Regions from separate parts of the Homo sapiens genome. Here region 1 is linked to region 2. Evidence: fine-mapped expression QTL. A gene starts in region 2. The other region holds a variant in brackets. All regions are shown on one strand. Distances are from middle to middle. Region 1 has its middle 170 kb from the start of LINC02450. Region 2 holds the start of PRICKLE1 (prickle planar cell polarity protein 1).

The links. PIP is the estimated chance that this variant, and not a neighbour inherited with it, causes the effect.
Region 1: its variant is the best candidate, but not a certain one, in a credible set for the expression of PRICKLE1 in nasal epithelium (TOPMed, PIP 0.55).

What each region holds. Positions count from the first base shown.
Region 1 is chr12:42,857,238-42,862,615 of GRCh38, reverse strand. No RefSeq gene overlaps it. Among named protein-coding and RNA genes, the nearest start is that of LINC02450, 170 kb to the right of the region's middle. The variant T/A (reference allele first, on the strand shown) is at 2,950.
Region 2 is chr12:42,586,840-42,592,217 of GRCh38, reverse strand. PRICKLE1 (prickle planar cell polarity protein 1) reads left to right here and starts at 2,472. Exons shown (of 8, transcript NM_153026.3): 1 at 2,472-2,753. RefSeq lists an enhancer at 1,192-1,749 and a silencer at 2,219-2,468.

The DNA.
Region 1 (5,378 bases), 270 kb before region 2:
ACTGTTTAATGATTCAGGGACCTATTATTATAGCCGTTATATACCGTGGTTATACTGACATTTTTTCTAGAACCAGAATTGCAAAGAGGAAGTTTTTGCTACTTGTACCCATAAGATTTTTTGAATTAGTCCTTTCCCCCTGCACACCTTGCTTACTCCACCTCAGTCTCTCTAATGCTGACAGAAACAAAAGAAAGGACATCGTTGCTTAATACAAACACCTACCCATCTTAAAACCAAGGCTCCTCTCAGCAAAGAGGTCTCCAAAAACCACATCAATTTGTAATAATTCATGTTCCACTGAAAGCAGTTCCTCACACATCAGTAGGCACAAGGATGCACATGACGTAATCTATCACCAAGCTTGTTTCTTTATCCTTCTAGTGGATAACAATGACATTAGTCATTCACAAGACTGTAAAGTGGAATTTTAACAAGACCCCAACTTCCATTTTACTTACTCCTTTCCCCCTTTGAAACCCAGTAGCTCTTGCAGGCAACTGTCTACCCTTCTCATTTTCAATCCTGTTCTCCAGAAGGTTCTTAATAAATTTATTCAGACTATGACAATAGTAAGGAAATTTATCTCAGACACTGTTTGCATTAGAACAGTGGTCAAAGTGATTACTGGCGTTTTAAGGCAGGGAGGGAAGTTTTCCAGGGTGCCTGAAAACCCAAAACACAGAATATGGCCTAATATAGTCCAATCTGAAGAAACATCATGCCAGTTACATAAGGTTACTGGAAAACTTTGAAATCTTCAAGTATTCTAACTTCACAGCAGAAATTGAATCAATAGATGAATGAAGGATAGATGACAGATTGATAGCTAGCTAGCTCAGTCTTGTATAAGACAACAAGTTTGTCTCTTTTCAAATGTTCTGGCATGTCCTATTATCTTCCTGAAACATCCTATCAACTTCCTGAAGTGGAAATGTGATTAAATAAACATGACAATTCTAGATGAGCTTTCAAAATGATACAAAAGGGGTTCAGGTTTATTTATAGGGTTTCTGCCTGGGAATAGAGGCAGATGCCTGAAGGACACCATTGCATTAAGATACACTCATTTATATCTTGTAAAACTCTCATTTTACTTTGACATCCCTTAATTCTGCATCTCTTTCAGCTCCAGCAGTGGGTTCTTAGTTCTCCTTAGCCATCTTCTCCTTTTACCTGCTGCACTATTCTGGGTAACTGAGGCAACCCCTCAGTTACCCCTTTGAAGCCTAGTAGCTCTTGCAGGCAACTGTCTACCCTTCTCACTTTCAATCCTGTTCTCCAGAAGGTTCTTAATAAATTTATTCAGACTACGACTATAGTAAGGTAGTAAGGAAATTTATCTCAGACACCGTTTGCATGAGAAGTTACCCCCGCACTACTGCAAAGAAAACTCTGGGCAAAATTTTTTAATCATTCATATCGCACACATTGATTTTAAAGCAGATGGTTTTCACTCATTGAAGCTGCCCATAGTTGTATCCTTGATGCTTGCTGCTATTATCAAGCCTTCTCTCCTTAAAAAGTAGAAAAAGAAGTCAGTTGCTTCCACGTTGTTCCCTGTCTGACTAGCATCTTCCCTAGGGGAACCCATGATAAATCCAGATTTGTTGGAAGCTGTCACATAATCTGTTACAAAGAATAGTTAAAATATCTTATAATAATAAATGCTGTGATGGTTAATATTAAGTGTCAACTTGATTGGATTGAAGGAGGCAAAGTATTGTTCCTGGTATATCTGTGAGGATGTTGCCAACAGAGGTTAACATTTGAGTCAGTGGACTGGGAGAGACAGACCCATCTTGAATCTGGGTGGGCACCATCTAATCGGCTGCCAGTACATCTGGAATAAAGCAGGAAAAAGAACGTGGAAGGACTAGACTTGCTAAGTCTTCTGGCCTTCATCTTTCTCCCATGCTGGATGCTTCCTGCCCTTGAATATCAGACTCCAAGTTCTTCAGCTTTTGGACTCTTGGACTCACACCAGTGATCTGCCAGGAGCTCTCAGGCCTTCTGCCACAGACTGAAGGCTGCACTGTCAGCTTCCCTACTTTTGAGGTTTTGGAACTCAGACTGGCTTCCTTGCTCATCAGCTTGCAGACAGCCTATTATGGGACTTCACCTTGTGATCTTGTGAGTCAACATTCCTTAATAAACTTCCCTTCATATATACATCTATCCTATTAGTTCTGTCCTGCTAGAGAACCCTGACTAAACAAATGATTTACATGTTTGGGGGTGTATATAATACAGACCATAATGGGTTTATTCTCACCCACTTGCATTGAAATATCTATTCCTGGGAGGCAGAGAAGGTGACAGAAAACCCAGTAGGGCTGATGATGTGATGTGAAGGAAAGTGTCTATTCATGCTAAAGGCAGGAAAAAAAAAAGGGTCACTGCCTGGACTTTTCCGTTCTCTTTCCTAATCGCCTAATCTGATACAAGATTCCAGGTCAATGAATTTTGTTTTAAAAATCACTATCATAAGCCCTTTTTGAGGGAGGTGGAATAAAAGAGAGAGAGAGGAGGGAAGGAAAGGGAAGAAGAAAGGAATGAAGGATTTGATCCCTTCTGGCACCCTTTCACCAGGACTTAGCTCCATGTGGCCTGCTGGAAGTAACTAAGGGACTAACTCATGGGGGCAACTTTATAGTTCATGAAAGAGCAATTGCTGGAGTCAGGGGAAGAGGAAGTTGCTGAGTGAGAGAAATGGCCAAGCTTGGAGAGGCATTTTGGAACAAGGCGGGCTTTGTGGTGCCTCCTACATTATCGCCTCTTGGGGCACTGCCAGCTTGCCCACTCACTAGACAGCCGCTCCATCGCAAGGCTCTCTGTGCCTCCTGTCAAAGATCTCCGCTAATTCCTTTAGCCAAACTAAACAATTATGCAAAGTTTACAAGAAAGGCATAAGATATATTTCATACTCTCAAAGAGCTCGGAGTCCAA[T/A]TTTCCACGGTGGAAATCTCTTATACTTTGTAAACTATCCGAGGCACCACAAAAATTTTTCAACAAAGGGCAGATTGAAAACCAATTTGTAACTCTATTTGTGCTAATATTTCATTTTCTCCTGGTTTCCAAGAAATTAACCAGCTGCCTGGTCCAAAGGTAATGATAAAGTGAGCCCTAAATCTTCAGACCAAAGTTTGGGAATTCTGCTCGTCCAGCTTTCATAGAAAGGAATGGAAGTAGAACCTCAAATCACACATCAGGCTGCTAAGACCCCCTCCCCTGTCTTTAAATCAGCTATAACTAGTGCTTAGGGAAGAATCTGAACAGCAGAAGTTTCAAAACAATGGGTCTTTTAATTTCCAGTGTGTATGTTCTGTGATATGAAACCCTAACATTTAAAAATTTACCATGTATTATAATATACAACTCAGCTTTTTTTATGTTTAAAACATTCCCCACATTCCAGAGTGCTAATTTGAGGCTAAATGCCTGGAAAAATGGCTCCCTTAACCCCTTCATTGACATATAAGACCATTTCATATTTCTGTTGTCCCTAACTGCAAAGTTTTGATTGATGCATCACAAGTTCTGGGGTTCAAACAAAGTCTTTAAAAATTAAAGTGGGATGAGGAAAAATAGCAAAGAGTTGGGCAGTTTTACAGTCCTTGTTTCGGTCAGATGTGTTCCATTCAACTGCTGTTTAGCAAGGCTGACTAAGATGAGCGATGAGATGGAAAGGGGTTGAGGCGTGGACAGGGGACATTGAGGGAACAGACCCAATTTAGTGGATTTCTATGGAACCAACAGAAAGGATCCTTGATAGCTGAAAGCTATGGTAGCAGCCAGCAAGATAAAGCTTTATCTTTATCTCATGTTCCAGGAGGATCATCACAGTTGAGAAGGAACTTTAAGTAGCTAATTTGAAGTTACTTAGTTAGATTTTCTGATTTTTCTTTACAAAGTTTAATGATGGTTACCTTTCAGTCTTTAACCAATATTTTAAAATTATAACGTAGAGGTCACTGGAAGAAAATACGTGCTTCCGTTTCCATTTTATGAAGCTCAAGAGAAAAGAAAAAGTCAGTGTAGTACTCAAGGGAAATCTGCTTTTAAAAGCCAATGATTTCTTCTGTATGACTGCTCCCTAAGTTAATTTAAGCAGCTTGTTATTTGAAAACTATGTTATATTTTGGAAGGGGTAGTACTGCCTTTTTTTAGTCCTCTATTGAGAGAAGTTGAAGTGTACAGGCATAATTCCCCATTTCCTTCTGTCATCCTAAAGTAGATGCTTCTTCACGTGAGACAGGAAATCACAAAATACTCAAAACTATTTTAATATATTTTAGAATTCTACTGTGTAAACTCCACGGTGCTTGCTTGCACATTGTCAACGGAGGGTAAATAATACTTAAATGAGTATCTACTTTCTCAGCCAAGAGGACTATTTTCCTACCAAAATCTCCTTCCAATTTGACTTAATTATGCTCTAAAATGCTATCAGCAACGTTAAGTGTACTGTAAAATTAGAATTGTATTATAGTTTGTGTTCATTAGTATCCCCCTTTTGGTCTCTGAGAAGCTTTAGAAAGACTTCACACTCTTGTGGCTTAAAGAAATACCTCGCTACAGTTTCTAGAATAGTCCTGAAGCTGGGAGTGCACTGGGAGCCCACATTCCCCTCAGTGTCAATGTTCTAACCTATTTCCAAAGCAGCTCATTAAATCACACTTTCCCTTTGTATTGTCACCTACTGTTAGTTATTCTCATATATTTCACCCAAAAAACTGCTTTAACTACCCAAAAATATGATGTCCCCTAAGCTTTTTAAAAATACATAAATTAGAAAATCATTAGCATATAAATCATACCACTGGAAAAAATATTGTAGGTTGATGGAGCTAAGGTGGGTTTTCTAACACAAAGACAAGTTAGAAAGCCCAATGGAGAAAGAATATTTATTCATAAATCCAAGTGAAATTAATTGGAACAATTTAGTGACAGTTTCAAAACAATGGCACCCATCAGAGGTGCTGCAATTGTCTTTCACAGTGGACCCATTAGCCAGCACTCTATTTTAACTACTTTTCCTCGGGGACCAGCTTTACTCAATTAAAAATGATTTATGACTTTGGTTCTATTTTATAATCATTTTGGGGAGAGTTCATGCATCCACATACATATCCATCTAACTTTGGACTGAAAAAAATTTTCAAAAATTCCATAATCTGATTGGCTGACACTGAGAAGTGAAAGAGATTTAAGAGCTTGATATAATCAACATAAATGTTCCACTGATTCTCAAAACCAGGAGTACATTCCTTGCTGTCAGGCCTGTGGAACCACAACCCTGCCACTCACTCCACACATTTGGGCTTCTCTCTGTGGGTCCAGAGCTGCTCCATCAATCTCTTGCTTGTTTGATATCA
Region 2 (5,378 bases):
CTTGTGGGATTTTGCATGGAGGCTGCTATAGAGAAGGGTGCTTGTGAGAAGATGCCTTATAAAATGAAATACAAACGTTCCAGTGATTTCTGCAGCATTCAATCTTCCCAACAGTTCCCTGAGCTGAATATTATTACCCTCACTTACCAATGAGAAACTAAGCCTGAGAGAGGTTAACTACATTACCCCAGGCTACATTTGGTAAGCGGTGGGGCTGAAATTTGAAATCAGACTGTTGTGACCTCAGACCATCACATGCACTGGCCGGAGTAATTTTATGAGTCCTGGTTGAAGGCCAAGTATTCACCTTTGCAATGGATCCAAAAGATGCTGCCCAGCACACAGTCCAAAGAGGCAGTAATCCTCCAGAGGGAATGACCATGTATCATCCACAGTGCTCAGGGTGTCTGCTCCACATAATAGATGCTCAACAAACAAAACCTTTGTGAAGTCACTGTACAGCAATAAGATTTATTTCACCTATGGAGGTAGTGAAATTTTCTTTGGCAGTTCTGGAGGTTAGATAGAACCTAAAAGTTGATAGCTTAATAGAAGCATTTGTAACCCCAGCAAGATAAACAGACACAACTTCAAAGGCCAATTCCAATAAAATGCTGAGGGGCAAGAAAACCTGGTTTGTTCTTTCCCAGATTCTCGTCACCTGAGGTCAGGAGTTCGAGACCAGCCTGGCCAACATGGGGAAACTGTCTCTACTAAAAATACAAAAATTACCTGGGCGCGGTGGCAGGTGCCTGTAATCCCAGCTACTCGGGAGGTTGAGGAAGGAGAATCGCTTCAACACGGGGGCGGGGCGGAGGTTGCAGTGAGCGGAGATCGCGCCACTGCACTCCAGCCTGTGTGACAAGAGCGAAACTCCGTCTCAAAAAAAAAAAAAAAAAAAAAAAAAAAAAAAAACAACGCTAGCAAGTGGAATTATTTCAAAAGCAACAGCCTTGTTTCCTGAGTGATCTGAGCTCAGGAACTCTGCCTGGGCATCTAGACAGGAGAAAGTATCTACAGCGTGGGGAGATCTGAGTCAGAATTATAGAGCACAGTGCTGAAGCCATACATTTTCCTGGATTTAGACAGTTTCCTCCTCCATTTGCCTTTATTTCCTTGCATTCTCTTTTCATCGGCTCCATTTTTGCTGAGTATTCCTTTGCTTTATTCCCAACGAAAATCGAAAAGACTTGATGTTCTGAGAAATTCTGAGACTGGCAGTTTTGATTTTTCTTAAAAGGATAAAAATTGCATCAGTCAACACCTCCCTCCACACTCCCCCCACACACATCCTCATCTTCCTGGAAGATGATACAGTATCCTAGAGCGTTGTGGAGAGGATGGAGAGGTCAAGGAAGCCCTGGCTTTGCAGAGGCACCTGTCAAGTTCGGGTTAACAGCTGCCGCCTGTGTCTGCCCTCTGCAGTCCAGGGAAATAGTACCCACACGGTGAGACTCCACCGATCCGGAACTGGAGAGGGTGGGGGGTTCTAAGGTTTAGTGTGACACAAATGTCAGGGCAGAACTTTCAAACAGGCTGAGCCCCAGTTCAACGTGGGTGAGTGCGCCTGAGAGCCCAGCTCTGGGAATTGAGCAGACTGAAAATGTGGAGAGTAGTTTGGCCAGTGAAAAATTGTCACCGTGTTCGGATCAATGCTTTGAACCCGCTTTTAAGTGCGCCACGTTCACTTGGGTCAGGCTCTGGACATTGCGGTGGGCTGAGGTTTTCGCGGGCACGATCCCCCACACTGAGTTTTCATGGAGACGACCAGGGCCGTCGAGGCGGGGAAGGGAACGGACTAGAGGCTGAACTTTGGCTTCTTGCTCTGAAAGATCACTCCTCCGGTTCCGGGGCAGAGACTCAGACCAGCCTGTGGGATTACACGAGACAGGATCGAGTCCAAACGGGTCCCCAGCTCGGCAAGGCGCGCCGGAAGGAATCTAAGTGTTTAATTAACTGCCCCCTTCACACACCCCCCGAAGGAGAAGGAACTCAAATAGGCACCCCTACCCAAATCGTTTGATCAGAGGAAATTGGGTTTGTCTCTCCCCCACCCCCCACCCCGTCCCTTCACTCTTCCTGTGTTTCAGTCCATCGGGATTGTTGGTTAAAAAAAAAAAAAAAAAAAGGCTTATAATCGGGGGCGGGGCAGAGGCTCCGAGCGAGCCGCACTTGCGACTCTGGACCGCGGTTGGTGAACTTTTTTCTCCCTGCGCATAATCCGCCTGCTGCTCTGCCCCACTGGCTGCGCGTGGAGCCGGTCCCAGGCCTGCTCGCAGCCCTGCCCCCGGGCGCGGCCCGAGCCGGGCCCGACCTCGCTTTCAGGGCCGAGCCGGGGTACGCGTGGGCGCGCGCCCAGCGGCCTCGATCCCGCGGCGGCGTCCGCGCTCCGCGTTTTCGCTCGCGCCGGGCCCCGCGGCCGAGGGCGGGGTGCGCGGCGGCGCCGCAGCGCGCGGCTCCGGAGCCCGAGCGCACTCCGCCTGCAGCCCAGCTGCCAGCGCCGTCTCCCGCGGCCGCCGCCGCCCGACAGCGCGCCCGGAACATGCCAGCCTCGCGCAGCCTGCGCTGACTTCCCCGAGACGCGCCGCGGTCGGCACGGAGACTTTCTGGGCTCTGGATGGTTCGTGCGCTGCTCACCCTCGCCCACCCCTGACGCCGCGGACCGCAGCTCCTCAGCCCCGCAGCCCCGCAGCCCAGCAGCCCCGCAGCGGCGCCGAGGACAGTGCAGCCGAGTTGCGTCTCCCTCGCGCGAGGTGAGTGGCAGCCTGGATCCCGGCGGATTCCGCAGAGGGGGCTGCGGCGCGGTGGTGGGGGGCGAGCGCCGCAGGGGTAGGGCCGGGCACCTTCGCTGGCACCGCCGGAGTCTGTGACACCCAGACTGGGTCGGTGTCGCAGAAGATCAGGGAGAAGGTCATAATCGGTTTGTTGGGCTGTGTAGACAGGGAAAGCAGATATTGGCTGCAGCATCGCCAGGGCTCCGCAGAGGCTCTCCGCATGGCTCCTGTTTGCTGCATCACAACCAACTCTTCCCTTGGTTTTCTCCGGCGTGGAAACAGGTTCTGTAGCCCGAGGGTCGAGGCGATGCGGGGCGCCGGGAGGCGAGGGTGCGTTGGCGTGTTCCCGCCGCTTAGGATCGCCTGTCACCTACTGGCGTCCGGAGGGAGGGTACCGATTCTCTCCTCTAGCGCTGGGGAAAGGGGCTGGTGGCTTTTTGGCAGAGGCGAATCAACTCCCACCACTCTCCCCAACCCCCTGCCCCGCGATGGTGTTTGCTGAATGTAGCACAGATATAGGGAAAAAATGGGAGCGTCTTCCTCTCTTGAGGTAGAAAAAGTTGAAGAAACTAGGCATGTTAATAGTTATTAGGAGCGGGACTCAGGATGCAGCAGAAAGCTGTTAAATTTTCATTACCCTCTAAGAAAAACAAACGGCATCGCCAGTGACTATTGGCAGTGCTGTGTTATTCTTGGGACTTTGGGAAAATTGTTCACAGATTGTCTTCAGGAGGCTGAAGAACGAGGTTGGGGGTTGGGAGAGAGGGAGGACGGCTGCATCACGCTTAGTTCCAGCTTGCCTAAGGAGGGTTCAGGATCACAAGCCGAACGCGTTTGGTTGCTGATTTTTAAAAGGGTATCAGCGGCAGAACTGAGACCATGAACAAGGCAAACACACCACGGGAACCAGCCTAAAGGAAAAAAAAAAAGCACCAACAACTACAACCAAAAAAACATGTAAAAATCTGCCTCTCCTGCAGAGTTAACATGCATTTGTGCTATCAAATGGATGCATGTATATGTGTCTTTTAGGATAAGTTTTATGAATGACAAATCACTGAAATGGTATCTTGTATCTGTTCATGCATACAGTGTTGTCTACTGCCTCGTCTTAATCAGTACTTTGGAAGGCTGTGCCTGCAGTTGATGTTATATAATTGATGTGGTTCACCATCAGACATTTTTTAATGTACTTTAGGAGTAGAGGGAACTTCCATCTGTCTTTTCAGACAGGCCCAAGGTGTAGACTGGTGAGGGTTGCTAATGTTTGCCGTAGTCCGGCTCCAGATGTGTGAGCTCAGCTGTTGCCTGTCACTTAGGTGACAACTGGCCCTTTCCCACTAAGCCTTTGCTGTCTCCATTATCCTCAGTGAAGTGTCAGTGTTCAGCCGCCTTCTATTATCAGGAGTGGACTCTAGCCCCTTGGGAGCCGGCAGCCTTGTTTGACCGTCCCCAACATTATGTCTGTTTTCAGACTCTAGAAAGGAAAAAAAAAACAAAAAAAAATCCCATGACAGCAAGATAGATACATTTTGAATTGAGCATCAACTTAATCCAAAGATTCTGCTTTAATCAAGACAGTTCTGTAAGGATGACGCAGTATTTGTCAAGGCTTTTCTCTGGAACAATATTTACTCCCACCAGGGGATTTTAAACTTAAACAGCAGCCATTCATCTTGCTGTCTGGTGGAGCCTGGTTCAGTTTGCCTCCAATGTGGTCCTAGCCTTGGTGGCTAGGCTTGGCCTGGGACAGGAATCTGTCATTGTAGCCCAGCTGGAGCCTGAAGAAAGCAAAATACAGCACCTGCTGGTACCAGAGGGTTTCTAAATGCCATCAACTGGCGAGTCAGGAAACACAGAAGGAGATATTTTACCAGCTCTTCCAGAAATGTTTATACAAAGGATTTAGAGGTTAACAATGCATGTGCTCTACATATTAAAACCGAAAGGTGCTACAAATAAATGGATGTTACCCACAGTTAAGGGTTTGCACACTTGCTGATGAACTTGAAAATCTCCAAGTTTAATAAGTCATGGCTAATGTAGTATGATTCATTCTTATAAATAAGCCTCAAAAGGAAGGAAGGAAGGAAAAGAGGGAGGGATGGAGAGAGGGAGGGAAAAAGGAAGGAAAAACTGGATAGTTTATAGAGATAGACATATTGATGCAACTGAATGGGCTTAGTAAATTAATTTTTCCATCTTTAATTTGGTACTAATTGGCGAGTTATCACCGAGTGAGCCTGTTGGTTCATAGGTTTTAAAAAGAAAAATGATATATTTTACTAAAGTGACAGATTCAATCAGTTCTGCCAGTAACACCAGTGAAGCTTAAAAAGCTTATTATGTTTTTATAATCAAGGTCCATGGAAGCACTATTTGTCCATGGTGTGTGGTGGTGTAATAAGTCAGCTTGAGTCCCCCAGATAAAATCTAATATTAGCTAGGGAGAAATAAAGATCTCCTATAGGGTTAATAGCTGAACTCTTAACTTTAGAGTCAGATGTAGGTAAGTCTAGTTGTTCCTAATATTCTCTCTTTTGATAATTCTGAAAAGACCAAAAAAGTTAAATTTTGCAGTTTCTTTGATTAAGGCTTTTAAAA